Linked DNA regions of Homo sapiens. The protein of the gene in region 2 purifies or fractionates together with the protein of the main gene of each other region. This does not show direct contact. Each region holds a gene or a part of one and is shown on either strand. Other genes may lie near its edges. The genes, in order: PDXDC1 and HS1BP3.

What was found.
Region 1: the proteins of HS1BP3 (region 2) and PDXDC1 purify together in Homo sapiens (affinity purification with mass spectrometry; 2 studies listed by BioGRID and IntAct, with this or other methods). This does not show direct contact.

The regions. Positions count from the first base shown.
Region 1 is NC_000016.10:15,009,040-15,024,024, reverse strand, and holds part of PDXDC1 (pyridoxal-dependent decarboxylase domain-containing protein 1), read right to left. Parts: intron 14,345-14,985; coding exon 14,266-14,344; intron 13,705-14,265; exon of another isoform or gene 13,628-13,704; intron 7,897-13,627; coding exon 7,812-7,896; intron 6,906-7,811; coding exon 6,857-6,905; intron 6,705-6,856; coding exon 6,603-6,704; intron 5,186-6,602; coding exon 5,060-5,185; intron 1,322-5,059; coding exon 1,271-1,321; intron 1-1,270.
Region 2 is NC_000002.12:20,629,873-20,644,857, forward strand, and holds part of HS1BP3 (HCLS1-binding protein 3), read right to left. Parts: intron 11,309-14,985; coding exon 11,101-11,308; intron 8,781-11,100; coding exon 8,564-8,780; intron 8,558-8,563; exon of another isoform or gene 6,361-8,557; intron 5,131-6,360; exon of another isoform or gene 4,844-5,130; intron 1-4,843. UniProt on the Homo sapiens protein: May be a modulator of IL-2 signaling.

The DNA.
Region 1 (14,985 bases), on a different chromosome or scaffold from region 2:
CAACATGGCAGGGGCAGGAAAGCAGATGGGCCCAGCACCGCCTGGATTCTTAACAGCTTGCTCAATCTAGGCCATAATTTGCTTCTCTGTTTGCAATCAGAGGAGACCAACCGGCATACTTTCATTTGACAGTCAAGCTTGGAAAGAAAATGACTCAATGTCACAGGGCCACCCTGTGGCACTGCTCAGAGCAGAGCCCAGGCCTCTGAACTTAGATTCATCCCTTCTGCTTCTCCAGTGGTCCACTTCCTCGTCCAAGGATAGAACTCCCACTGAGCTAGAACTCGGGTCAACTGGCTCCAGACTCCCACTCAGAAGGCAGAGTAGCCACACCCCCTTCAACCAAACCATGCATTTTTTTTTCTTCCTTGAGACAGGGTCTCTGTCACCCAGGCTGGAGTGCAGAGGCGCAATCTCGGCTCACTGCAACCTCCGCCTCCCGGGTTCAAGCAATTCTTTCACTTCAGCCTCCCCAGTAGCTGGGACTACAGGCGTGTGCCACCATGCGCGGCTACTTTTTGTATTTAAACCAAACCATGTTCTAAAAGAAAAATAAACCTACTGACTTGAACCCCAAATACACTCAAATGTTAAACTTAAGCATACCTTGCAGAATTGTCAAAGAAACACTCAATGAACCTATTTAAATCAGAATTTGACATATATTTCCTGAAGTTCTAAAATACCATGAAGCAAAACACAAAAACTTTCAAACCTGAACTGATCCCCATTCTCTCCTAAGTCCTTATTTCCTTGTCTAGTTATGCCTAGGGAACAATCTGTTGGATTCACTTCAGGAAGATATCAGAAGACAAGAGCAGGGCCATTTGCTTTTCTCTTTCTCCCACTTCATGCAAATGAAAACTGATGGCAGAAGGTTGCAGAAAGAGAACCCCAAAGCATTCTGAGGCACAAAGTGACTTTTCATTTTGGGAAGAAGAGTGTGCCCAAGGCCTTGGGCAGCTGAAGTCAATGGTGTTTATCTTTGTGCAATTCTGAACTTTAACACAATAAATGAAGTACATGAAAAGCACCATAGGAATTAAACATTGTATGGTTCAAATTTCTTCGCTTCAGACTCACTGTATAAATATAAGCAGGTTTTTTTGTTTTTGTTTTTTGTTTCGTTTTTTTGTTTTGTTTTTTTACTGGAGCTGCCACAATTCCACTGAAATGTGGAGAAAATCATTCTAAAGTTCTAAAATCATTCAAAGTTGCTGAGGTTCAAAAAAAGTTATATTTTGAAAACAGATGAACTTATATACTATACCAAGATTTTGATGTAATTCACTTTCTTCAAACTTTCCTGCAACCGTTGACTCTGCAAATGACAAAAAATAACACATGTAATTAGATGGACGTGGGACATGAAGAAGTGGTTTTCACCAGGGGCTGTGGAGGTCTGTGAACACGGATGTCAGGCAAAGTCACCTGCCACTTGGTGGTTTCTAAGTTCAGCCACCTGTTTTTGTATTTCAACAACTGTAAATATTCACCAATCCTTCAAGTTACATGTAGTAATTCAAGAAAAGCAGTTTCTAATAAGACATGGAAATCTGTTGTATTTGCAATGTAAGTCTGTCATTCAAAAGCTACTGAGTATAAACACGTGCAAGGCACAGTACTGAACACTAGGGGAGACCAACGACAAATGAGAGGATGCAGCACGCTCAAGAGCTGGTGATAAGAGCACAGTGCTGCCACTCATCACCTGCAGGACCACGGATAAGTCAATTCATCTGCCAGTCACCAGCTATGTAACCTGTCTATGCTTCAGTTCCCTCAATTATAAAATGGGGAGGATAGTATGTATCTCACATTGCTGTGAGGATTAAATGAGTTGATATGCAATACAGGAAGTGCTTAGAAACAGGGTCTAGAATGTAGTGTCATTAGACTAATGTCTCAATCCCAGGTCCCTCATCACTAATCATATCTAACTCATGGGATTGGAGTATATTAATTCAACAGATATTCACTGAGTACTGGACAGTAGAAAGCCCCTCAAGAAATTCCTTTTTGTTTTCTTAAAGAAAATTAATTCTGAATACACTGTCATCAGTGGAACTGACATTCTAGTGAAGTTGCAGGGATCAAATGAGATGATGCATGAAAGTACTTCATGGTGCCTGACACTGAGGTGAATGCTCAATAACTACTGAAGACGAGAAAGAAGAGAGGGAGAAGAGAAGGAAGAGGAGGATGAGGAGGCGAATGCTGATTTACGCTCTCAGGAAATGTATGCTCCACTGTGGACTATAAGGCATGGCTATATACAGATCACCATGTCTGCTAAATGTCCAAGTAATTTAACACATGCATTTATTAGCCTGTGAGTCAGCAGCAGGACAGCATTCAAATCCTCAGGAGTATACGGTTCTGCCTGCAGGAAGATGCCAGAGCTGTGCTGACCTCAAGGGTCTGGTAGTTAATGGCATCATTCTCCCGCACTCCATAGCCACGGGATATTGAAAAAATCTCCCGAGTGCCCAAGTCGTCTCTAAACTAAGTTACTAAGGCTTCTCTTTCCTAAGAACCACATCTCAAGAAGTGAGCTAATAGCACAGTGAGACACTTTTCAAAAAATGCAGTGCTTTTGTAAACATAATGAGCATCAATCTTTTTTTCTTTTTTTTTTTTGAGACAGGGTCCTACTCTGTCGCCCAGGCTGGAGTGGAGTAGTGCAGTAGTGCTATTTGGGCTCACGGCAACCTTGACCTCCTGGGCTCAAGTGATCTTCCCACCTCAGCCTCCTGAGTAGCTGGGATCACAGGTGTGTGCCACTACACCTGGCTAATTTTTGTATTTTTTGTAGAGACAGGGTTTGACCACATTGCCCAGGCTGGTGTTGAACTCTGAGGTTTAAGTGATCCACCTGCCTTGGCCTCCCAAAGTGCTGGGATTATAGGCATGAGCCACTGCACCCAGCCCAGAGCATACTTAAAACTGTTGAACTATCCTAACATATGATGAACGAAGGGACTACTGCTAGAGCACTACGCAAATACTTTTCGTGTGTGTGTGTGTGTGTGTGTGTGTGTGTGTGTGTTTAGATGGTGCCACCCAGGCTGGAGTGCAGTGGCACGATCTTGGCTTACTGCAACCTCTGCCTCCCAAGTTCAAGCAATTCTCCCTGCCTCAGCCTCCTGAGTAGCTGGGACTACAGGCGCCTGCCACCATACCTGGCTAATTTTTGTATATTTAATAGAGACGGAGTCTCACCATGTTGGCCAGGCCGGTCTCAAACTCCTGACCTCAGGTGATCCACCCGCCTCGGCCTCCCAAAGTGCTGGGATTACAGGCATGAGCCACCACGCCCGGCCTATTTTTCTTTCTTTTTTTAAAAGACTGAGTTTCGCTCTGGCTGGAGTGCAGTGGCGCAATCTCGGCTCACTGCAAGCTCCGCCTTCTGGGTTCACGCCATTCTCCTGCCTCAGCCTCCCAAGTAGCTGGGACTACAGGCACCCGCCACCATGCCTGGCTAATTTTTGTATTTTTATTAGAGACAGGGTTTCACCGTGTTAGCCAGGATGGTCTTGATCTCCTGACCTCATGATCTGCCCACCTCGGCCTCCCAAAGTGCTGGGATTACAGGCGTGAGCCACTGCACCCGGCCACCTATGTTTCTTAAATATAGAAATGATACTTGAGGAAGTGCTAACTCCCCAAGAATATATTTAAAACAAAGATTTCAACCCACGTGCATAACTTACTATATGAACAGACACTACTGCAAGAGCTCTACCTGTATTCGTTCCTCGAGCCATCCTGGCAATCCTTGTCATATAATTTATATTTCACAGGTAAGAAAATGGAGGTGACGCACTTCTGAGCTTAGGGAGGGCTCAGCTCTAACCCTGAGTAAACATGACCCTGTTTTTTGGCTTTTTTTTTTTTTTTTTTTTTTTTTTTTGAGACGGAGCCTCGCTCTGTCACCCAGGCTGGAGTGCAGTGGCGCGATCTCGGCTCACTGCAAGCTCTGCCTCCCGGGTTCACACCATTCTCCGGCCTCAGCCTCCTGAGCAGCTGGGACTACAGGCGCCCGCCACCACGCCCAGCTAATTTTTTGTATTTTTAGTAGAGACGGGGTTTCACCGTGTTAGCCAGGATGGTCTTGATCTCATGACCTTGTGATCCACCCGCTTCAGCCTCCCAAAGTGCTGGAATTACAGGCGTGAGCCACCATGCCCAGCCTGTTTTTTTGCTTTCTAAATGCTATGATCTGAATATTTATGTCCCCACAAAATTCCTATGTGGAAACCTAATCGCAAATGAGTTGAGGCCTTTGGGAGGTCATTAGGGCATGAGGATGGAACCCTCACAAACAGGACTAGTGACCTTCTGAAAGAGGCTCAAGGGACTGTGCTCACCCCTTCTGCCATGTGAGGCCACATGCAAGGCACTATCTATGAGGAACGGGCCCGACATGGAATCTCCTGGCACCTTGATCTGAGACTTCTCACGTCCAGAACTGTAAGCAATAAATGTCTGTTGTTTATAAATTACCCACTCTAAGGTATTTTGTTATAGAAGCCTGAATGCTCTAAAACACTGAAATATAGCATAATTATATATTTTTCACAATTAGAACACACCTAAAATGGAGAGAGAATTAGAATTGTCCCCAAGAGCCCTGCAATTTGGAAACCCAAGCCAGCTGGTTTATAAAATATCCATGCCCTCCATAACCACCTTGTAACCTTCCTATTCCCTCACCGTAGTCAGTCAATCAAGGGGAACACTCGCTCCCCACCCCTCCACCTTTTGCACCCTTCTCCACTCCTTGGAAGTCATCTGTGACTTCTTTTCTGATCCCATGCTGACAGTGGTGTTCCTTTTCATCTGATTTCATCTGCACACAAATGCTGGGACAGACAACCCAGCACTTTCTCCCAGAACTTTGAACAAGAAATATTTACATGCAGGGCGATTAGTCTCTGGCTCACGAGACAGTCAATCCAGACAACACCACTCTGGATGGAAGGTACAGAAATGAGATGTTTTTCTGTCTCTGCTGTGGCCAAGGAGTCTTTCATTTAAATGTCAGGCTTCTACTCACCAGTTGACAGGCATGCTTGATCCTCTCCACAAACCCATCAAGTCCCAAGTATTGTAAAGATAACCACAGAGGCAGGGCACGGAGTTTGTCTGTGGGCTTATTTGATGTAAGACCAGCAACTAAAGTCTAAAAAAGCCAAAAGAGGTTTATTAATCAAAGCCATTGCAATCTCATAATAGAACTAACCAGCTACCATTTGCTACCCACTTAGTGTGGGCTAGATGCCATACTAGTCACTAGGCTTGCATTATCCATGTGATCTTCCAACAACTCTGTGAGCTAAGTATTCTAGGTAACTTCACTCAGAGACCTCGGTTTGTCCAAGGGTTCACAGCTCAGGAGTGGCAAAGCCAGGAAAAGCCAGTGGAAAACCCAGATGGGTCACATCCCAGAACCTAGGAGACTCCCCACTTCGAAGGTAGCTCTGAGCATCCTCAAACACCTGGCCATTATTAGCTGAGCAAGACAGCAGTGTTTTAGCAGAAATCACTTAAACCTTATTTTGCACGCTGACCTATATTATCAAGAACCACATTATTATTATTATTTTTTGTGACAGGTTTCGTTTTCATTCTGTCGCCCAGGCTGCAGTGCAGTGGTGTGATCATAGCTCACTGCAGCCTTGATCTCCAGGGCTCAATCAGCCCTCCCACATTAGCCTCATGAGTAGCTGGGACTACAGGCTCACACCACCATGCCCAGCTAATTCTTTGTTGTTGTTTTTTCTTATAGAGATGAGGTTTCACCATGTTGCCCAGGCTGGTCTCAAACTCCTAGGCTCAAGCGATCTGCCTGCCTCAACCTTCCAAAGTGCTGGGATTACAGGCATGAGCCACCATGCCTGGCCCACAACTACGATTAAAAAAAAAAAAAAATGTGGCCAGGTGTGATGGCTCATGCCTGTAATCCCAGCACTTTGGGAGGCCGAGGCAGGCAGATCACCTGAGATCGCGAGTTCAACATGACCAACTTGGTGAAACACTGCCTCTACTAAAAATACAAAATAAGCCGGGCGTGGTGGCGCATGCCTGTAATCCCAGCTACTTGGGAGGCTGAGGCAAGAGAATCACTTGAACCCAGGAGGTGGAGGTTGCAGTGAGCCAAGATCATCTCACCATTGCACTCCAGCCTGGGTGACAGAGCGAGACTCCATATCAAAAAAAAAAAAAAAAAGTTAAAACCTATTGGGCAATGTGGATCAGGAGGCTTAAAACTCCCCCACTCAGTCATTCCACATCTGGGAACCTATTCTAAGGAAATAATTAGAAACACAGAAAGACGTTCACTGCTTCATTATTTCAGTAACAAAACTCTGAAAACATCCTATAAGTTCATAAATGGAGAATAATTAAATTGTGACAGAATATTATACAATCATAAAATGTCATTAAAAAAAGTCTCACAAGTTTCTCTTTAAAAAAATGAAATAGAAGTGAAATTATGGGTATTTTTCACTTTTTCCTGTATTTTTCTGGATTTTGCCCCCAAAGCCAATAATGTGTATTAGCCACACCCACTCCCTCCCCAGTGAGTGGAAACTTACCAAGGCAGGGTCATCGTGTTTATACAGTGTCACCGCAGGAACAGCTGGCAAACCCAGCCACGGGCCAGGAGTCATCGTCATGCTATCACATTTGGCTGCAGCCTACCAAAACAAGAACAACTCTTTGTTAGATTATCAGAATACACAAACCTAACACCCTCCTCCATTCATAAAAACTGTGAAGAGCCATGAGGGACTGAGTGACTTTAAATTCATTCTTAAAAACACCAATATTCAGTAAATCAACAACATACCAGCACTGATGAGGAGACATAACCCAGAGCCAATGTTGCCAGATTCACACTGGAAGAAAAAACACCAGTCCAAGAACTAATTATTTAATGTTGCTTACTCACCATGTACTTAAAAAAATAAAGGCTGTGCTGTTGCAAGTTGACACTTAAGTATATTTTTAATGTTATTAGCTTTCATTAACAGCAACAGAAGGTGTGCTTTATACATATGAAGGAAAATCCTGAAAATGCACTTTAATAAAAATGTGTCTCAGGAACTATCCCCGCTCATTTAATATAATGGGAGTATTCTTCTCTTTCATGGATCTTATTTTCCAGTTATCATTCTTTACTTAGGGATCAAAAAGAAACCTCCCTGTATGATGTGGTGGATATGGGCTACTCTGGCTGCCCACGTCCGTTCCCCCTGCTTCTCTTAATGGCCCTACAATAGCCTTCCAGGGCGCCATCTCCATTTCTTCCAGCAGAACATGAGCTTTGTGGGGAGGAGACACCACTATCTGCTCCAGAGGAGAGCAAAGAACCTCAACTATCAGAGGATTACTTCTCCCTGGCCACAGTGGCTGGTTCAATACGAGACTTCTGTTAGGACTTCCAGCTGACCACGAAGCTGGAAAGAAGGCTGGAGTTTCTGCAGCTACTTTGCACTGTAACAGGAAGATCTGTCCACAGATAGAGGAAACCAAGCCCAGTGCCTGTGACTGGGGGAGCAGAGGTGGGAGTAACACACTGGATCCTGGTTGATGTCGTGCCTGAGGCAGTCATAACACTGCTCTTTGTAGTTATGTGAGCCAGTAAGATCTCTTTGGGCTTAAGCCAATTTGGGTTATTTTGTGATCTGTGACCCAAAGAGCCCTTCGTGATAAATGTCACCAAAGTGAGAGCCTGGATGTCCAGTCCTCATAAGGACTCTGTGCAGGCCCGAATGGAGCCACCAGCCTCACCGCCGGCTTACCCCTCCACATGAAGCCATATGCCATACTGCTCACAGAGTTCTTTCAATCTCCCAATCTTGTCTGTGTGTCCTACTGCTGCCGTTCCTAGGATAAAACACATCAGGGCATTAAAAGGAACAAATGTTTTCTAAGGCTTTATACCTTAAACACTTTTATACACATTATCGCCCTAGGAGGGAAGTGACTTATTATATCCCTATTTTATTGAGATTTTCTTTGTGGAAGGACTTAAAATCAGTGTTTGTGAGTTGACTTATTACAAGCTTTGAAGAGTATGTAATCTCTATTACATGTATCTAATTGTGTCATTGAATTCTTTTATATACTTATTTTCTATCTACTTGATCTGCTGACTCATGAGAAATATATTCAAATCTCCCACCAAGATTGTGGTTTGTCAATATATACTTGTGTTACATCAGACTTTTCCTTTAGCTTTCCTTTATATATTTTAAAGTTATGTTCACAAGCATTCATAACTGTTTTTTTTTTTTTTTGAGACGGAGTCTCACACTGTCGCCCAGGCTAGAGTGCAGTGGCATGATCTCAACTCTGCAACCTCCACCTCCCAGGTTCAAGCAATTCTCCTTGCCTCAGCCTCCCAAGTAGGTGGGATTACAGGCGGTGGCCACCACGCCCGGCTAATTTTTTTGTATTTTTAGTAGAGACGGGGTTTCACTACGTTGGCCAGGCTGGTCTCGAACTCCTGACCTCGTGATCCACCTGCCTCGGCCTTCCAAAGTGCTGGGATTATAAGCATGAGCCACCGTGCCCAGCAGGTATAACTGTTATTTCTTTTAGGAGATTACATCTTTCATCAATATGAAGTCTATTTTATCCCACACTAATATGGCTATGGTACTTTCATTTTGTCAGCATTTGTCCAAGATAAACTTTTCCACCTTTTTATTTTATTGTCACTTCCTGGATTATTTTGATTTAGATATGCCCTTTATAAAAATCATATAGGTGGGCTGGGCACAGTGGCTCACATCTGTAATCCCAGCACTCTGGGAGGCCCAGGCGGGTGGATCACAAGGTCAGGAGATGGAGACCATCCTGGCTAACACGGTGAAATCCCGTCTCTACTAAAAATACAAAAACAAAATTAGCCGGGTGTAGTGGTGGGCGCCTATAGTCCCAGGTACTCGCGGGGCCGAGGCGGGAGAATGGCGTGAACCTGGGAGGCAGAGCTTGTAGTGAGCCGAGATCGTGCCACTGCACTCCAGCCTGGGCAACAAAGCAAGACTCCAGCTCAAAAAACAAACAAACAAAACATATAGATGAATTTGTTTTGTTTCCACCCAGGTTCCTTGTAATACAGAACATGCATTCTGAAGCCAGCTTAAGCATATTAAGCACTTTCAGCCGCTCCCTTGGTAATTGATTGCACTACAGATTTTGCTGGGGAGATCCCTTTTCAGAGAGAGCTTAGTTAAAACGTTGAGTCAGGCATTCCCCCAACCGTCCTAAATTTCCAGTTAGCAGTAAGCCAACTAAAAAGATTTCAAACACTCACCAACGGCCTCAACAAACACAGCTAAAGAAAGTAGTTCTTTTGTAAGGTCTATGCCAGGAAAAGGGCTGAAAACTTTTTCCCCTCATACCTAAATCTACCTCAAATTAAAAAAAAAAAATCTTAACAGACACATTTAGTTTAGCTGAAACAAGATCAAATGTCAATGCATGGGCTGTGCCACAGGCTCTTCCAGCAAAATAAAAGCGTACTGCTGTGTTAGTGCCTGGATCGCATGCAGATTCTCTTTTCGTATTTCTTGGCAATGTCTGGTGACTAACCCTTGACATGTGTCTGCTGACATCTGCAACATAATCACACTGGCAAGTCACTCAGTCACATGCAAACTGCAGCCCCTCCAGTTTATCATGTGATTGAATATGGGTGAATTTGTGTTTTTAAACAATAAGGCAGGAAGTGATGGTTTTCCTGTTGGCAATAAAGTGAATATTTATGTGGTTTTTCTATTTTGTCTTTTTTTTTTTTTTTTGAGACAGAGTCTCACCCTGTTGCCCAGGCCGGAGTGCAGCAGCGCAATCTCGGCTCACTGCAATCTCAGCCTCCTGGGTTCAAGCTATTCTCCTGCCTCGGCCTCCTAAGTAGCTGGGATTACAGGTGCCTGCCACCACAACCAGCTAATTTTTATATTTTTAGTAGAGACAGGGTTTCGCCATTTTGGCCAGGCTGGTCTTGAACTCCTGACCTCAGGTGATCTTCCCGCCTTGGCCTCTCAAAGTGCTGGAATTACATGCATGAGCCACCGCACCCGGCCTAAATAAGCAGTTTTATTGTAGTATGATTTTTTTTTTTTTTTTTTTTTTTGAGACAGAGACCCTTTCTGTCGCCCAGGCTACAGTGCGGTGGTGCGATCTTGGCTCACTGCAACCTCCACCTCCCAGGTTCAAGCGATTTTCCTGCCTCAGCCTCCCAAGTAGCTGGGACTACAGGTGCACACCACCACACCTGGCTAATTTTTGCATTTTTAGTAGAGATGGGGTTTTACCACATTGGTCAGGCTGGTCTTGAACTCCTGACCTTGTGATCTGCCTGCCTCAGCCTCCCAAAGTGCTGGGACTACAGGCATGAGCTCTCATGCTCGGCCTATTGTAGTATGATTTACATGCAACAAAACTCACTCATGTAAGTATACGGTCCAATGAGTTTTGACAAATATATAGAGCATGTAACCATCAACACAATCAAGATTCAGAATACTTCCATCAACCCCCAAATCCCATCAACCCCAATATAATTACCCTTTCCCTGACTCCTCACTGGCCCTGGAAAATCCTGATCTGCTTCTGTCACTGTAGTTTTTTGCCTTTTTTTTTTTTTTTCTTTTTTTTTTGAGATAGGGTCTCACTCTGTCGCCCAGGCTGAAGTGCAGTAGCACAATCTCGGCTCATTGCAAGCTCCGCCTCCCGGGTTCAAGCCATTCTCCTGCCTCAGCCTCTCAAGTAGCTGGGACTACAGGTGCCCACCACCACACCTGGCAAGTTTTATTTATTTACTTATTTATTTTTTACAGAAACAGAGTCTCACTCTGTCACCAAGGCTGGAGTGCAGTGGTGCGATCTCACCTCACTGCAACCTCTGCCTCCCGAGTTCATGCCATTCTCCTGCCTCGGCCTCCCAAGTAGCTAGGACTACAGGTGCCCACCACCACACCCAGCTATTTTTTTGTATTTTTAGTGGAAACGGGGTTTCACCATGTTAGCCAGGATGTCTTGATCTCCTGACCTCGTAATCTGCCCGCCTCGGCCTCCCAAAGTGCTGGGATTACAGGCTTGAGTCACTGTGCCTGGCCTGACATTATATTTTAAAGAATTTTTTTTTTTTTTTTTTAAGAAAGGATCTGGCTCTGTCACCCAGGCTGGGGTATGGTAGCACAATCTTGGCTCACTGCAACCTCTCTCTCCTGGGTTCAAGCCAACCTCCCACCAAAGCCTCTGGAGTAGCTGGGACTACAGGTACACACCACCACACCTGGCTAATGTTTAGTATTTTTTGTAGAGATTTCCTAGGGGTTTCGCCATGTTGCCCAGGCTGGTCTCGAACACCTGAGGGCAATTGATCTCGCAGTCTCAGCCTTCCCAAGTGTTGGGATTACAAGTGTGAGCCACCTGTAATTTCTCCATTCTAACAGACATGTAGTAATGTCTCATGGTGATCTTAATTTGCATTTCACTAATGACTAATGATGTTAAACATCTTTTCAAGTGCTATACATTTTCATTTTCTTTGATGAAGTATCTGCTCAAATCTGTTGTTCATTTAAAAAATTGTATTGTGGGCCGGGCACAGTGGCTCACACCTGTAATCCCAGCACTTTGGGAGGCCAAGGCAGGCAGATCACCTAAGGTCAGGAGTTCAAGACCAGCCTGGCCAACACGGTGAAACTCCATCTCCACTAAAAATACAAAAAACTAGCTAGGTGTGGTGGCACATGCCTGTAATCCCAGGTACTCGGGAGGCTAAGGCAGAAGAATCACTGGAACCCGGGAGGCAGAGGTTGCAGTGAGCCAAGATCGCACCACTGCACTCTAGTCTGGGCAACAGAATGAGACTCCATCTCCAAAAAAAAAAAAAATTGTATTGCTTGTGTCCTTATTGAGTTGTAACAGTTCTTTATATATTTTAGATACAAGTTCTTTGTCAAACAAATGTTTTGTAGCTTCTGGGGAAAAGAATGAAAAAGAAATTTTAAAAGAAGACAGGACTGGGACAGTGGCTGGCTGAGTGTGGCGGCTCACGCCTGTAATCCCATCACTTTGGGAGGCCAAGGCAGGTGGACCACCTGAGGTCAGGAGTTTGAGACCAGCCTGGCCAACATGGCGAAATCTCGTCTCTACTAAAAATACAAAAATTAGCCCGGCACGGTGGCGTGCGCCTGTAATCCCAGCTACTCGGGAGGCTGAGGCAGGCGAATCGCTTGAACCTGGGAGGCGGAGGTTGCAGTGAGCCAAGGTCGCACCACTGCACTCCAGCCTGGGCAGCACAGCAAAACTCCATCTCAAAAACATAAAAAATAAAAATAGAAAAAGACAAAAAAAAAAAAAAAAAAAGAAAAAAATGTTTTGCAAATATTTCTCCCAGTCTGTAACTTGCCTTTCATCTTCTTAATAGGGGCTTTCAAACAGCTAATGCTTTTAATTTTTGATAAAGTACAATTTATGGTTCACATATTTTGTATCCTAAGAAATGTAACCTAAGGTCACAAAGATCTCCTGTATTTTCTTTGAGACATTTTATTGTCTTAGATCTATGCTTAGGTTGATGAACCATTTATAGTTAATATTTATATATACAGAGAATAAGATAAGGGTTAAGATTCAGTTTTTTTCCATATGGATATCCAAGCTCTAAGACCACTGATGGAAAAAGATGGTCCTTTCTCCCTCGAATTACTCAGGCATCTGTAAAAACCTGAAGTGTCCATATACTTCACATGAGTCTATTTCTGAATTCTCTATTTTCTTTGGTTAATCTCACACAGTCTTACTTGCTACTTTACAGAAGTCTTGAAGTATGACAAGGTAAGTCTTCCAATTTTGTTCTTTTTCAAAATCCCTTGGGCTGTTCCTAGATCCCTTGTATTTCTATATAAACTTTAGAATTAGCTCATCAAGTTCTATTAAGAAATTGTAGCCTGCTGAGATTTTAAGATGGATCAAGTTGAATCTACAGATTAGTTTGGGAAGAACTGACTTAATACTTAGTCTTCCAACCCGTGTGTATGGCATATCGTTCTTGGGTCTTCTTGAATTTCTCTCAGTAACATTCTTAGTTCTCAATGTACAGATCTTGCATATATTTTGTTAAATTTATCCATAAATTTTTCATCTTTTTTGATCCTATTATAAATGACATTTAAAATTCAATTTCCAATTCTTCTTTGCTAGTATGTAAAAATCCAGAAAATGGTTTAGATTTGATCATTAGTTCCAGTAGCTTTTCTTTAGTTTTCTATCTATACAATCATGCCTGCAAACAAAGTTTTATTTCTTCCTTTCTAATCTGTCAGTTATTTTTTTTGCCTTATTGCACTGTCTTAGATTTCAAGTATGATGCTGAATGAGATAAATGGAGCAGCAAGTGGTAGTTGCTCTGCCGCCTATAAGGTAGATATTTAAGTGTGACATCTTATGAATTTTCTTGTTTAATTTTTACAACAATCTTACAACGTCAGTACAATTATTTTTATTTATTTATTGAGATGGGGTCTTGCTATGTTACCCAGACTGGTATTGAACTTCTGAGCTTAAGCCAACATCTTGCTTGTCTCCTGAGTAGAGGGACTATAGGCATGTGCCACCACACCTGGCTTAAATGTGTCATTTAAAAATTCAGGCCAGGCACAGTGGCTCATGCCTGTAATCCCAGCAATTTGGGAGGCTGAGGCAGGCGGATCACCTGAGGTCAGGAGTTCGAGACCAGCCTGGCCAACATAGTGAAACCCTGTCTCTACTAAAAATACAAGAAATTAGCCAGATGTGGTGGCATGCACCTGTAATCCCAGCAATTCAGGAGGTTGAGGCAGGAGAAACACTTGAACCCGGGAGGCAGAGATTGCAGTGAGGTGAGATTGTGCTACTGCACTCCAGCCTGGGCAACAGAGTGAGACTCTATCTCAAAAAAATAAAATAAAATTCAGTTTAGAACAGGGAAAAGAAGTACATGAAGGAGAAGATAGAGAAGCATTTACCATCTAAATGAAAAAGTATACACACACATAAAATAACTTCCAAAACAAACCAACGATTAAAGAAAAATCTAACGAGCCAACCTTACTATTACAGTTTTTGCTACAATGTGGATATGGACTATCTTAAACATGTGGTACACACACATTTCTTAAGACTTTATCTTTTATAGGCTGAGGACGTAGCCTCGCTCCTATATATTCAAAATGGTAGATTCAGCATCATGCTACCTACCTGCATTTGCGACAAGCAACAGGGGCAGTCTTCCTCGCTCTATATCATCTTTAATCAGTTTCTCCAGGAAGGCAACATCCTGGAACCAAAACAAATCATTAAAAAATGAGGTGCCCAGTATAAAAGCTATAAAATGAAAAATTATGACTTACAAAAGAAGCAGATAACTCTCAAAAGTAATGTCAAATCAATTCTTACTCTTGACAATTTTTCTGTTTTCTCTCATCATAGATGTGAAAATCAAATAGTTTTCCTTGAAGACTAGAAAAATCAGTTAAACAAAATTAAAGGTAAAAACTGTACATATGCAGGAACATTTCTTTGATTTTAAACATTTACATTTAAATGAAATGTTCTCTTAACTCTCCTAAAACAGCCAAGAATGTATCTCTACTATTACTCACTGATGTACCTGAACTAGAAAATAAAACTACCTTGACAAAAGAAATAAAAAACTCTAAAATCCATCCCTTCCTTTTCCTTCTGGAATCATTAAGGAGAGATTTATCACCTGCATGTCTGAAAATAAGCAGAACTCAATTCCATGATGACAATGAAGAACCTCATTTTCAAAATCTGCCCATTCATAAATCCAGGCAACAGTGCTAACTCATTAAAAGTAGGAGCTTCAGAAGAAATTTCTGGTGCTTAATTGAGCTGCCATGTTTCTACTTAAAGCAGGTGATACAGTAATTACAAGACTCCTTAAAAGCCAGGTGC
Region 2 (14,985 bases):
CAGCCTGGCTCCCTGTGGCTCAGGCAGTTCTGGTGACAGTGATTGACACATAAGAGCATCCACCACTCTGGCCACCCAGGGGGCCTGTGGCACCATTCCCAGATGTGCCCACCCACACAGCAGACCACCAATGGGCACCAGCTGCTCAGCACCGGGTGTACATGCATGGCAGAGGCATCTCCTAGACACAGCCAGCTTAACTGGGTCTGAACAGAAGACTGCTGATCTTTCCACAACTGAGACACATGGACAGCATGAGTCTTCAAAGCCAGGGTGCAGCTTAACCAAATACGGAAATCCACCTCCTTGCCAATGATGCAAACTGCGTGCTTTAAACTAATGCACTTTTCATACTTTATTCTTAAATTCAGCTGTTTGGTGTCTTTTTGTTTTTTGGGTTTTTGTTTGTTTTTTTGAGACAGGGTCTCTGTCACCTAGGCTGGGGTGCAGTGGCATGATCACAGCTCACTGCAGCCTCGACCTCCTGGGCTCAAGTGATCCTCTCACCTCAGCCACCCTAGTAATTGGGACACAGGCACACACCATAACACGTGGCTAATTAAAAAATAATTTTTTTGTCGAGATGGAGTCTCGCTATGTTGCCCAGGCTGATCTCAAGCTCCTGGGCTCAAGTGGTCTTCCCGCCTTGACCTCTCAAAGTCCTGGGATTATAGGCAAGAGCCACTGTGCCTGGCTGGTTTTATTTTTTCAATGAGAAAATTCTCAGAGTACCAATAAATGGACTTCTGAAATTCACACCAGGACAATGTTATTTGCAACAGCAATGGGCTTCCTTGGAGAAGCAATCACAAGAGTGAGAATCACCTGAGGACAGGCACTAACCCTGGGAGTCCAAGCCAGCCTCACTGGACAGGGGCTTCAGAGAAGGCCAGGATGGAAAAACGAGCAGAGTCACAAAAGCTGTGCTCCGGGCAGAGAGAAGAGCCCATGAAAATGCCAAGGTGTGCAGAGCCTGGCATAGTGAAAGTGCCCAATAGCTGGGCAGCAGGTGCATGGAGGGAGGGTCTGTGGGAATTGTTGGCCACCTCCAGTGGGGCCTGGGGAGATTCTGGCCTTTGCTGAGAGAGGAGCAGCAGAGGGGGATGTAGGAGAACTTGTATAGGATCTGGACCAGTCACTCAACTTCCCCAACCATGTTTCCTTACTGGAGGTCAAAGGGAAGAAGGAGGCAAATGACACAGAAATGCTTCGCAAGCTGCCAAGTGGGTCCTGGATGCAAGTCAGCGCAGGGCCGTGGCAGAGGTCTGGGGTCCTGGGAGCTGCCTGGTGATGTCTAGGCTCACTTATGCTTTCTACTCAGCAGACTTCACTCTGGGCCTTAAAAAGCAAATGGGGCCAGGCCAGGCACAGTGGCTCATGCCTGTAATCCCAGCACTTTGGGAAGCCGAGGCAGGAGGATCACTTGAGTCCAGGAGTTCAAGACCACCCTGGGCAACATAGTGAAACCTCATCTCTACAAAAAGTAGACAAAAGTAGCCAGGCATGGTAGTGCATGCCTGTAGTTCCAGCTATTTGAGAGGCTGAGGTGGGAGGATCAGTTAAGTCTGGGAGGTTGAAGCTGTAGTTAGCTGAGATCACACACCACTATACTCCAGCCTAGGTAAAAGAGTAAGAACCTGTCTCAAAAAAAAAAAAAAAAAAAAAAAAAAAAAAAAAAAAAGGGGCCAGCCAGGGAGGTCACCATGAACGTTTATCATTTGCTATGGTCCCCAGAGTCACATTCCAAGGACCTGTTTCTCAACAGCCAGAGCCCACTCTCCTGGCCACTGAGCCCTATCTTGAGGGGCCAGGACTCAGTGACAATCCCACCTGAGCTTGTGGGTGATGCCATTTTTCCTTCTCCACAATGGGGCCAGAGACTGCCCCTCACCCATCCTGGCTCCTGCACCACCAGGGAACCACGTGGGTCCCAGCTGCAGGTCTCTGCAGCCTACATTCTACAGCAAGCGCCCAGTACCCCCAAGAGCCTGAATACACAAAGGGACAATGGCCAGGCCACATGTAAAGGTGGAACTCTGACCCACAGTCTGCAGTAACCTGCCCAGGAAGCCAGACCACAGCCTCTGCAGCAGTCAGCCCCAAATGGCCAAGATTTGATCAATAACTGCCAGCTTTCCTAAATTTTTCCCCATTTCCAGTTTAGTAGGACCATCCAGAGAAAGCCAAACATGCCCCACTTCCTGCTCACAGAGGACAAAGGATGCCCCACTTCTCATTGGCTGCTTCTGGATTCCCCATGCCAATAACCTCCAATCAGCGTGTATCTGAGCCTTCCCTTTCATCTGCTTCAAAGTGTCCCACTCCCCTGCCTCTCTTTGCATCTTTGCCAAATGCAGGTGATGGTGGCCGACACCTCCCTGGTCGCAGTAAGCTCTGAGTAAACAACCATTGCTGGTTCTCACATGGGCGCTCCTATGCCCCTGATCCACTCCAAATGGTGACACGACCAGCAGACAGCTAGCTGTCCTTGCAGTGGGGAATGCCCATCACCCATGTCATCAAAAACCGAGAGTGAACAGGTGAGGGCTGAGAAGTCAGTCCCCTGGCACAAGTGTTGGACATGGCCTGGGGAAAAAGGGAAAAGTCCTGGGCCAGCAGTCAGGAGACCCCCAGCTCTTGCTCTCATGCCCTCCTGTGTGATCCTGGGAAGGTTCCTCAGTCGTAACAACAGAGCCTGGATCTGATCTGCAGTCCTCAGAGCGTAAAGGCTCTGTCATCCTAAGAGTGTTGTTACTTGCCAGAACTTGCCACAACGGGTCCTGGGGGAGCCTGAGGCGGGAAAATGGCAAGTGTGACCTCCCAGATTTCTATCTCTCAAGGAACCAAGCAACCACTGAATCCCACTAAGGATTCAGGTAAGCAGGCTCCTTCCTCCAGGGCCAGGGGCTGCCCCACCTCCAGAATCGCCTGCTCTAGGAAGCTGTAACAGGTGACAGGTGTACCGGCGCTCCTGGAGGGAGGTAAAGTCATAGTGTGCACATCACAGTGACTGATATTTGCATAACAACTATAGGAAGTGGAAAAGCTGCCTTTTATATTCATATTTCAACTGTTGGTTAAATACACAAAGACCTCTTTAGAGCAAAGTGAATCTGAAATAGTGATAACATTTTACAAAGGAACTTTCCTGTAGTGCTCCATCTCATTTTATCCTTTCAGCCACTGGGCCTCTACTTTACCCCTACTCTACAAAGAAAGAAACAGGCTTGGAGAAGTACAGCAACGCACTCAGCGTCCGCCAGCTGAGTGGCAGAAAGGGGATTTGAACCTGGGACTGCCCATCTTTAACCCTGCTCTGGGGGTAGCCACACATCCTGGGGGTTTCCAGCTGCCCCACTCACTGTCAAACCATACTCTAAGGGGCCCTCGCCTTCTGCAAAGCTGCCCAGGGCTACCCCAGGAAGTGGGGCTGAGGCTGGAGGGACAAAGATCCAGTCCTCACTTGTCCCAACCAGGGGAAATCCTACTTCAGCCTGTTTTATGTACTGGGATTCTGGATGATATTTCTCTTGAGCCAAAGGTTTTGCTACTGAATTTAAAAAGCAGAAACCACTGGTACATCTGTTGTTCCTAACAGCCCATTCATTCAGGCAGGACTTTGTGCAGTAATCTGTTTTTTTGTTTGTTTGGTTTCTGTTTTGTTTTGTTTTTGAGATAGAGTCTCAGTTGCCCAGGCTGGAGTGCAGTGGCACAATCTCAGCTCACTGCAACCTCCGCCTCCCAGGTTCAAGCGATTCTCCTGCCTCAGCCTCCTGAGTAGCTGGGATTACAGGCGTGCCCCATCATACCCAGCTAATTTTTGTATTTTTAGTAGAGACAGGGTTTCACCATGTTGACCAGGCTGGTCTTGAACTCCTGATCTCAAGTAACCTGCCCACCTCAGCTGCCCAGAGTGCTGGGATTACAGGCGTGAGCTGCTGCGTCCGGCCACGGCAGTAATCTGGATGGGGAAATGCAGTTGGCATGCACACTGTGCTGCTGTGATCACTGTGACAGCCTGGGTGGAGTGCCGCCTGCGTGACGCTGCAGGGCAGCTGTGGCACCTGCCTCCTCCTTTCCTTATGGCTTTGGGTCCCCAGCCAGGCCAGGGCTAAGTGCTGCACAGGTGCAGGGTGAGGTCGGGCCCAGCCATCCTGGCTCGTGGCCCCCACATGAACCCCAGGATGGCACAGCAGAGAACTCGTCCAGCAGGTGGGTCAGCAGACGAGGGAAAGCCCAGCCCGAGCAGGAGTTGCTGGGGAGCAGACAGTACCGGAAGTGCCTTCTGGACACGCCCTGTCCTCAGCCCCCTGTGGGCGGCAGACTGTGGTGACGGCTGACCTGCCACTCTCCACACCTGTTTCCTTTCTGGCATTTCCAACACTTTAACAGAATTTGGTTTCTGGGAATTCTCAAACAGGAGCTTGCGGAAGAACCAACTCAAGAGCTTGTTAAAACACAGATTCTGGGGGCCCTACCCAGATCTGAGGGGGGCCTGGAATCTCTATCTCTGCCAAGCTTTCAGTGGCCCAGAATCCCTAGGTGGTCTCTGTTGCACTGGTGGCATCAGGGGAGCCCTGGGTGCCCAGGCTCAGGCTGGAATGAACAAAGAGGTGCCAGGCCCATGCGCAGTGGTCGGGATATTTAGCAAGAGGCACCCTCGGGGAAGCAGCTCCAGGGCACCTCAGGAGGTGGGACTGAGGCCCTGCTGTCCCCACAGAGCTCCCCTCCACGGCTCACCTTAAGGGACTGTCTTGCTGCTAAATCTTGGGTTAGCAAATCTGGGAGCACCTGGCAATGTGCCAGGAGCATTCAAAACCACAGAATCATTCCAGAGAAGTGATTTCATCCAAATATAGAGTAAGATATTATTTTTATACTAAAATACATGTGGTTGTTTTATGAAAGATGAAGCAAAATCCATATTAAAAAACAACCATAAAACGTGGCATTCCAGAGAAACATCCAGCTTCACCACGGAGGCCACAGCACGGGGACCCGGGTGTGGGCTCCCCCTTCCAGGGAGTCTGGGAAGACCAGCTTTGCAGGCAGGTGCATTTGTTCATACAGGAGCCAGCCTGTCCCAAGGACGCTGTGAGTCCTCAGGGACCCAGGGCCTGGAGGGGGTCCCTGTGTGCAAAAGAAGAGGTGGGAGGAGTGGGCCCTGAGGGCGGGGGTGGGCAGGGCTTAGAAAAGCAGAGGGGCCTCCCAACAGAGGGGCTTCAGCCCTTAGAGAACCTTTTACTGGAATGGTACCCCAAAGCCCCCAGAAGCAGCTTCAGGGACCTTGCTCTGGGGCACGTATATAGGGGAAGGCTCCATAGAATAAAAGCTTTGTATATGTAGAAGTTCCTCAGGTTATTGCCTGTAATAGCAAAAACCTACAGAAAACCCCGCCACGCCCACAAGCAAGGGCCTGGTAATGCCACTTACAGCCCATCGAGCTGAGAAACCAGCAGAGGAAGGAGGGAGAGTGCAGCTATTGATCTGGAAGGACCTAGAACATGTAAGCTGGAAAAAAGCAAATTCCAGAACGGCACACAAGACAATCTCATTTTGGCAGTAAGATGTGAATATTCAAAGGTGCATTCAGAAATTCACAGGGAAAGGACTTTTATCTGTGTTTGCAATTTTTCTATACTAATTGTGTGTTATTTGAGTCACAATGAAAAAGGTTTCCCGCAGAGGATTTCCAGCATAAGGCAGAACTATTAGGGTAGAATGTCAATTTTCTCAGCACCGTGACATTCTAAAATAGAAACTTAAATACAAAACAGGGGCGACATGGAGCAGCAATCGGGACAGACCATAGGGTGGAAAAGCAGAGTACGAAAAGGCACGTGCATTGTGCCTGCGGTTGCATGGATGCTGCTGGGACGGGGTCAGAAGAGAGCCCCAGCAGATGGAGAGAGCGGTGGTGTTGGGATGGGCCGAGGTGAGGGCTTTTTCTATCTTTAATTGCTCTCTAATGGTGTAATAACGCTCTCTTGTCCCTAATCAAAACCAGGTTTAAAAGACAAAGAAAAGCCAGGCCGGCCTGGGCTCCGGCTTTGTGCTGGCGACTCCCACCCTCCCAGCAGCCCTGCCGTGGAGCAGCCCTTCAGCAGAGCAGCAGCGCCTCGCCGCGGCCACGGCGGGGAAGGACCGAGGCTGGTTGCATGGAAATGGTGGCCGCTCCAGGAGAGCCCAGAGCTAAGCCCAGACATGGGGCAGGGCAAGCTGGGAAACGGGTGCCGCTGCATCTGCACAGGAACCAAGCGCACGGGAGGGAGAGGGGTGCACAAACAGCCTCCCGAGAAGAACAGAAAGTCCCCCACCAAAGGGCAGGTGGGTGGCACCAAGAGAGATCAACAAGCCCACCTGGGTGTCTGTGAAAGGCCGAGGTGGAAACCCAACTTCAAGGTACGGCTCTGCCACACACACAGCTCTGGAACACACACGGCTCTGGCCAAGATCCTGCTCAACTCCTTCCTCGATTTTACCATCTGTGAAAGGGGGATAATCCTGGGGCCCTGCCCACCTCCCAGGCTGATAAAGACTGGACTGGAGATGGCGTGGGGTCCTGGCTCTGCCATCTGCAGGCTGCAGGAACGTGGACGAACCACCTGACCCTGAACTTGAGTTTCCCACCACACAGAAGAGGCTGATGCCAGTGCAGGCCTCCAGGGCTCCGTTTCTTGACCTGTGCCCACAGTGGATCCTGAAAGCAGTTTGGCGAGTCATGACCTTTCCAAACGTTGAAATAGAATAGAAAATATCCCAGTACAATACACTTAGTAAGGTTTTGTATGAGTTCTGGGAACTTTTGCTTCAGTTTTATGGGATGTTTATACATGTGTGTCCTGGGTCATGGCGTACCATATAGTTTTTACTATGGGTTGTAGCAAGTAGTTTCAGAAATGCTGTCTTACAGATATAATGAGATCATGCAAGCAAATGCTAACTTAGTTCCCAGCATTTCATAAACTCTCAAAAAATTTACTTATTATTCCTGACAGAGGTGATAACGTTGATTCATCAGCACCTTGTCACACGGGTCCTTAAAAAGAAACCCCAGCAGGGGAGGGTCTTAAGCCGGCAGGATTACTCTTAGGTGCTAAGCTTTCCCAGGATTCAGGGGTGAGGGCCCCAGAGTACAGAGCTGGGGAGGGGGCTGCCCCCGCCCCCCCCGCCCCGCCAAGGGGTCCCAGGATAGCTGACACATCTCCCCTGACAATCTGCTAATGAAGTAAGTAGGAAGTTCAAGGCAGCACTTGCCAGCCACAAAGAACATTTTCCTACCCAAAAAAGGAGCCGCTCGGCTAAGTGTGTTCTTCAGCCAAAGGTTGGCACAGACCACCAAAGTCCATCTCGGTTTGGCACTACGTGTGGTTACTCAGAACAACAGAGAATGTGAGTTCAAACAAAGCCTCACCCTTACCAAAATAAAGCCCAAGAAAGGCCTGCCGCGTTGGGCCAGGCTGATAAGGAGTGACTATTACAGGCTTGTCCCCATATCACCCACTACTCTGGCTGCCTCTCCCTCAGGGCCGCTGACCCCACTCAGGGACAAGGCCAGCCACGGAGGGCCAGGAGGAGCGACTGCAGGGCACTTGCTGTGCCCAGGTGCCGCAGGACCCCAGATCTCAGGCCTGTTTCTGCTGCAGCTCCCTGAGCGCCGCGTACCCTTTCCCAGTGCAAATCCTCACCCCTGGACGCTGGTCTCATGGCCACCCTGCAGCCCACCCTCCCATAACCCTCCCCACGAAGAAGGCCTTTCCAGAGTGGGCTGTGATTTTAGGAGAGAATTCTACATGCTGATGAAGTTGAACTTGCTTCTGCCTAATTTCTACTGGGCTCTAATTCCTTTCTGCGGCAGGACCTACACTCATCTGGCGCCCGAGGGCTTTGGTAAACGGCTAAGAGACATTCGTTGTGGTAGAGAGCGGGGAGGACAGCACCCCTGGCCTGGTCTGATTCCACTGAAAGATGGGGCCATGATGGTAGCTGATTGCTAAATTTACATAACTCAGTTCATCGTCACAGGAGCCCTAAGAGGTTGATACGACCATGAGTCCATTTTCACTGAGGAAAACCGAAGAAAAGAGATTGTAAATGGCCAGAGATGTATGGCTGGTGAATGGCCCTGTGTGGAGGCAGGGCCAAGGTGAATGCTCCTGCTATGCAGATGATGCAGCCCAGAGAGCCGCAGCCACCTCTGCGAGTCCCACAGCTGGAAGGAGCACCCAGTCCTCCCACACTAGCCGGACAGGCCCGCAGCCTGCACTACTGAGCTGTCACGGAGGACTCTACCAAGCCCCAGTGCGGAGCCACAAGTGGAGGACATCCTGTGACCCGAGAAGGGAGGCGACACCTAAGCCCAGTCCCAGAGACATGCACACCACCAAGGGCACGCAGAGAGCTACTTCCCCCAACACACCAGGCCAAGGCCTCGTGGCCCAGATCCCTGCGAGGGGGCGACCTGGGATGCTCAGGGCTTTTCTCAGATTCCAGGGAAGGGGGACGTCATCTCCAGAAAGCCTGGAATACACCAAAGGGGCCCTCTCAACAACAGGAGACCAACCGCATAATGCCCAGAGGGTCCAGCGCCTCCTCCTCCTCCAAGGATTCCTCAGCATCCTCGCCCTTCAGGCTCTGGACGGGCGGACCCTCTTCTGCCACTTGGTCTTGCTCCTCAAAAAAGTCGAAAGCCTCTTCATCATTCCCTGTCTGACTGTCTGTGCCATCCAGGACAGAGGAATCTCTGCTGGTGAGCCCTGCAGCCCCTGGGGATCTGGTACCTGTGGAGGAAGACAGAAAAGAATGGACTTGGTAACCACCCCAGAGCCAGGGGAGGCATCTTGCCACACTGCACCCTCCCATGCCAGGATCTGAGGCCGAGGGCTTCCTGCAGCCTCCTGGGACCAAACTCGTCCCTCCTGGGACCTAAGCAGGATGGCGAGTCTGGGTGGATGGAAGGTGACCTCCGTTTCGGGGGCAGCCAAGTGCCTGCTGCAGCCCCCCAAGGGCTGACGGGCACCAAGGAAGCCTGGAGTGGAGTGGTCACAAGTGGGAGCTTCAGAGCAAGACAGGGGCAGCGGTTCCTGAACCCAAGGCCCAGAGCCTGTGTGCGCCGCAGGGATGGCTGCACCCTCCTCCCGGGTGAGCGGTGGGATACAACAGCCAGGGCACAGGGTGATTCAAAAAGAACCAGTACAGCCAGAACCATTTACAGTTGGAGGCACGGCAAGGAACTCTGCAGACAGAGACCTGCCCCGAGAGTCTGGGCACCTGGACTGTGGACTGGATGGGTGCCCAGGGTAAGCATGTGGAAGATTCCAGAACAAACGGTAATCACTCCATTACAAACTGGCTTAGATGAGCGCTTCTTGAAGTGTGGTCTTCAGACAGAGAATGCCCCCTGTGTGACCACAATGAGGTAAGTAGAGAAAGGGAGAGCAAGCATCCAGAAACTTCATAGCATGCTGCCATCATCACAATACCCAAGTGTGCTTTTGTATTTGTGAAAGTATCCATCTGTGACAGGCTGGGAATAAAAGAGCTAGCCCTTGCCACAGATAGTTTGAGAAGCGTGGGCTCAGACTATTTGTTCATTTCTATCCAAGTGCTTACTGGGTAGTTTAAAACAACTGACTTTTAATAAAATCACCTTGTAGGTAAAGAACTTAGAGAGTGTCTGGCATACAGGATGCACTGAGTGATAATGACGATATCGTATTATGTGATGCTCTGTTATTTTACTTGGACAAATGTGAAAAGCCATTCAAAATCTCCCAAACCTTCAATTTCATGTCATAAGCATCTTACATTTAAACATCACAAAAGCCCTATGAGAGAGATCCCTACTGTACATCCATCTTGCAGATGAGCAAAGTGAGGCATAGAGCAGCTTGTGTTTCTATCCTGCCTCTCCACCAGAGAGGGGCTGGGACATCCTGAGCATCTCTTCCAGCGATGGCTGAGCTGGAACCTCTTGGCACAGTCTACCCAGCCCCAGAGACAGGCAAGGAAGGAAGGGTTGTGACCTTGGAACAACAAGGGCAGAAGAGAACCCAGACCCATGTGAGGGGCCCAACATGGCCACAGGACACCGGGGCTGTGCAGCTTGTCCAGTCCTAGGCCTGCGCATTCACCAGTTTTGCTTCTCTTCCCCACCTTTCACTTTAAATAATTTGTTTTATTTACGGTCAACTTTCTTTTGAAAACTTCCCTTCTGTCTTGTGGAACTAGGAGATCCACAGTAGCTGGGAAGGAGTTAAGCAGACGGATGTAAAGAGGGGAGAAGGGGTGGGAGTCCGGCACCAGCAGTGGTGAGAACCTGCCTTGTCCTGGGGGCATCTGTGAGACCAGGGCCTGCCCCACGGGGGTTCTGGGTTGACAGGACTAACCGAGGAGTGGGGTAAAATTGTAGCCACTATTTACTGTGGTTGTTTCTGTTCTAAGGACTTTGCATGTGTTAGCTCTGTAAATTCTCATAACGGCCTATCAGCCAGGCTACTCCCACCTTACAGATGAGAAAACTGAGGAGAGAAGACAGGGCCAGGACACCCATGGGAAGGGCTTGACGTCTCCACCACTGGGGGCAGGGGTGCTGGATCAATTCCTCAGCCCGGAGCTGTCCCCATGACCCTCTCTGTGGGGGCACAGGTGAGAAGCACATGTCCCCAGGGGCAGGTCACCAGCCAGGCTGTGAGAACACAGCTTTCCCGGGATACTGCAGGTCCCTAGGGCTGGTTGGAGGAGGCAGAGGGGAGTGTGGGGTGTGTGTCAGGGGGTTGTATGTGGTGCATGGTCAGTCGGGGGGTGTCGGGCAAGCTCTAGGAATGGGGCTGGCCAGGAAGGCCATGGATGGGGTCACACTATGGAGAATGCCTGCTGTGTGAGCCCCCACCTGACAGCCAGACGTTCAGTCCCTCAAGGGTAGGCCTCCTTCTGCCCACCATCCAGCCAAGGATGTCAGCGAGGCCACCTGCCTCACCAGCCTGGCTGAAGCCTCCAGGCTGCAGAGGCAGCTGTGGACATGCTCCCACTGGGGCACGGCAGCGGGGCCTAGTTCTGGGCCGGGGAGACCTGAGGGACATGGGGCAGAGCCTTGGGTACCTAAGAACTCTAGCAGCTCTGGGCTGCCTGCCAACTCGGCATCCTTGGAGACACAGCGCAGGATCTCATTGAACACGGCTCTCCTCTCCCGGATGTCAGACTCCCCAACAAACAGGACCTTCCTGGGTAGTGGGGGGAGGCTGGCTGCTGCATAACGACTGCTCAGTTTCTGGTAAAACTCCTCAATCTCGCTGTACTTTTTGGAGACCTGGAATGAGAGGAGCATGTGGTTTCCTGAGTGAAGAGTGGCAGGCAGTGCTCCTTTCTCACCCCGACCAGGGGTTCCCAAGGCCCAGCAGCCAAAGGAAGTGTGCCAGGTACGCCCGCCTGCTGCCCCTCTGCCTGTCTCCCAGCCTCAGGCTCCAGTCCTTAACACGCCTGGCCGATAGCAGATTCAATAAAAACATCTTAGTGGCCCAGAGGAAAGATGCAATAACGGTGCCATTCTGGACACTGTCACAGGTCCAGTTAACAAGATTTGATACAGGGACCCCTGCCCAGCCTGCACGTGATCAGGGCCACTGTGTTCATTCCCAGCTTTCTGCATATCAGGAGGGTGATCTCACCGGCTGGCAGGTCATCTTCCTGCAACACCGTGAATCATCTGTTCTCAGCACCAACCTCATTCTCCCGTGAACCAGTGTGGCCTTCGGCGGGCCAGCCAATGCAAGCAGTGGAGACAGATATTTCCAAGGCTTGTTCTCTGCCCTGCGTCAGGCAGGACCTCTCTGCACGCAGGCACCCGAGTCAAGCAGGCCAGGACTCTTGCTGTCATCAGAAGGCAGCCTTGAGCACCATCTGACTCAGAGAGGGCAGCACTCAGCTTCCCGTGGGGCCAGCGGCTGACTCCCGCTGCCTCCTTGGCCTCTCCCCACAGCTCCTGGGCAGCTAAGCCTTCACCCCTTCACTCACGGAGCTCTTGCTGCATGTTCACTCTGTACAGAGACACCCCAGCAGGCTCTCAGTCTCACAGTGGTTTCAGTGCCATCGCCGTGTCTGTAACCATGTGGGTGCTCAGCGAAGTCACCTGCTGTATACACACACCATCGGCCTGGCACCTACCCTCACTCCTAGCTCCTCTATCACCTGCTGTATGCACACACCATCATCCTGGCACCTACCCTCACTCCTCGCTCCTCTGTGCTTTCCCCATAGACTGGGCCTGTCTCCCCCGACTGAAGTGTGGGTCACTCACTCTTATGCTCCCAGGCCCGGACTGTGCCCACAGTGTGCCACTGGAGTGCTGGCGTGCAGGGGCTGCGGGCATCTGACGCCCTCGGGCTCGGGGAGATCCCTTGGTGCAGGGTGTGTCTGGAACACACATCCTTGGCTCCAGCAACACCACCCAGAATGCCCAGCCTGTGAAGGGTCAAGATACCAGGAGGCAGCTGGGGGGATTTCAGAACCTCCAGTGGGGAGTCACCTGGGACAGGTGCTGCTTGCAGTTGTCAGCACAAGAGCCTGGCTCCAGACTTTCCTGAAAACAGCCCTCAGGGAAAGGCACACGGACCCCTTCCCAGAGCGATTGCTAACACAGGCTCCGACAGCAGCTGTGACTCCAGCCCGGCCCGCAGAGCAGGCCACGGTGGGGGCCGGGCGCCCCCTGCTGGCCCGACTGCTCCCCTCAGGCTCAGACCACAGACCCAGCATATCCAGGCTCGGGGAACCTCCATCTCCAGGGCACTGGCATCGTGAGTACTCCGGAGCTGTAGGCCTGGGCTCCCACCCCACCCAGGGCCCACGTCCATCAGGGGTTCAGGCAGGGCTTCTTGGGTGGGCATCTGCACCAGCAACAAGAGGAGGCCAAGTAAGAGACCCTGAGCAGAGGAAGCTCAAGGTTGAGAACTCACATTTATCTGGTGCCCCCGTGTGCCAGGCACTGCTGAGCACGGGGCAGACAGCCCTGTAACGTTAGTAAGCTTGTGGGTGTCTGCACTGCTAGCACATCCAAGAGCCTGCACAACCTCCACTGCGGTGCCCCCTCCTGCGGCTGTTTTACTCCATGGTCAGCAAATCAGTACACGTTTATATTAAAACACATATGCCCTTTTAAGTAGATACAAAATGCTCATTAATTCTTTGAGTTAATTCATGAAACATCAAAGAGACTTCAGGCTTGGGGGTATGTAACTTTAGGCTCCATCCTGAGATCCCATGGGGAGTAAAGGAGTTCTTTGCCCTCGCAAGTACTTTCAAATGTCTGACAAGCCCCTGCACGCACACACTCCACGAGGAGTGGGCGTCACTGCCTAGGAAAAAGTGGCACTAGTGTGATTCATGGAGGTGTTAAAACACCCTCATGTACACCTTGCATGTAAGGCCGGCCCTCTGCACAGAACCAAGTGGGCTGGGCGGCTGAAGCCCAAGCTTCCCAGAATGCTCCCTCCTTCATGCCCCGCAACATCAAGCTCAAATACTCTCCTCTTCTGCTCCTGTCTCTGAAAATGTGGGTGCATTGAGCTCCAACCTGGATCAAGTCAAATTACCAGGAGCTGCAAAGCACCCTGTAAAGCAGATTCACTCTCAGAGCAATGCAGGCCCAGAATCACCCCTGACATCACACGTTGCTTCTCACCAAGAGTCGGCCACAGGAGCAATCAAATGAAAAACAGCATTGCTATTCTAGACGCTTCTCATGACGTTGTTGAATGTCCCTTAAAATTGTGTGGCTGGGCGTGGGGGTTCACACCTGTAATCCCAGCACTTTGGGAGGCTGAGGCAGGAGGATTGCTTAAGCCCAGCTTGAGGAGTTTGAGACCAGCCTGGACAACATAACAAGACACTATGTCTACCAAAAAAATTAAAAAAGAAAAAGCTGGGCATGGTGGTGTGTGCCTGTAGTCCTAGATACTTAGGAGGCTGAGGCAGGAGGATTGCTTGAGCCCAGGAGTTCCAGGCTGCACTGAGCTATGATCACACTACTGCACTCCAGTCTGGGGAACAGAGGGAGATCCTATCTCTTAAAAAAAGGAAACATTTGTGCTGTAAATTTCTCTTAAAATTTAGTGTCTCTTTCAACAGGTCACCAGAAAGATGCAACTCATCGTTTCCCTTTTTATCTTGGTTGCCAGGAGACTCCAAGCTAGCCCCGTGTCACTCCCTGCTGTACTTCGGGGTCTAGTTCATTTCACCTTTGTCCTAATAATCCTGGACCTGTGTCTCTTGGTCTCCAGCTGCAGGTCCTTTTCACAAGAGGCCAAATGGTAAATAATAAGCCAATGAGTGTGTGATCTCAACCCTCTTGAAATTCTCTCCTCCCTTAGCTCCTCTGACTCCGTAGATACCCACCCAGTTCTCTCCTCTCTGCCTCAACTGCAGACTCCTCCTTCTCCCCAAGAGTCCCTGAACCCCTGGCATCCTCAGGATTTCCTCCTCAGCCCTTCTCTCTGCCTTCCACTTCTGTTCTCTGGGCAACTTGATCCACTCCCAGATTTTTAATATCACCTCCAAGTTGATGACTCCCAAGCCTACATCTCAGGCCTGAGCTCGTCCCGAGCTCCAGCCTCATGTATCCATCCACAGGGCAGACACTTCACACTCCACATGCCCCCTAGGTCTGCTCCTCCATCATATTCTTTATTTCAGTTGGTGGAAACAGTCAGCAAATGTGGTGCATGTTACCCAGTAAACATTTTCAACTCTCCCTTTCCCTTCCATACCAAGTGCAACTGGCCTGCTCCAAGCCCTTGATTTGGGAATGACCATATTGGCCATGTATCTGGGCTCCCTGACACCTGTTTTGTTCCTTCCAATCCAACTCCATGCTCTCAGCAGATTGGCTGGTTAAAGGCAAAAGGGTCCACGTCACTCCCCTGCTTAAAACTCTCCTTGGCTGCAGGTTAAGTCCAGGCTCCCGCAGACTCTCCACAATCTGGATCCTGCCTG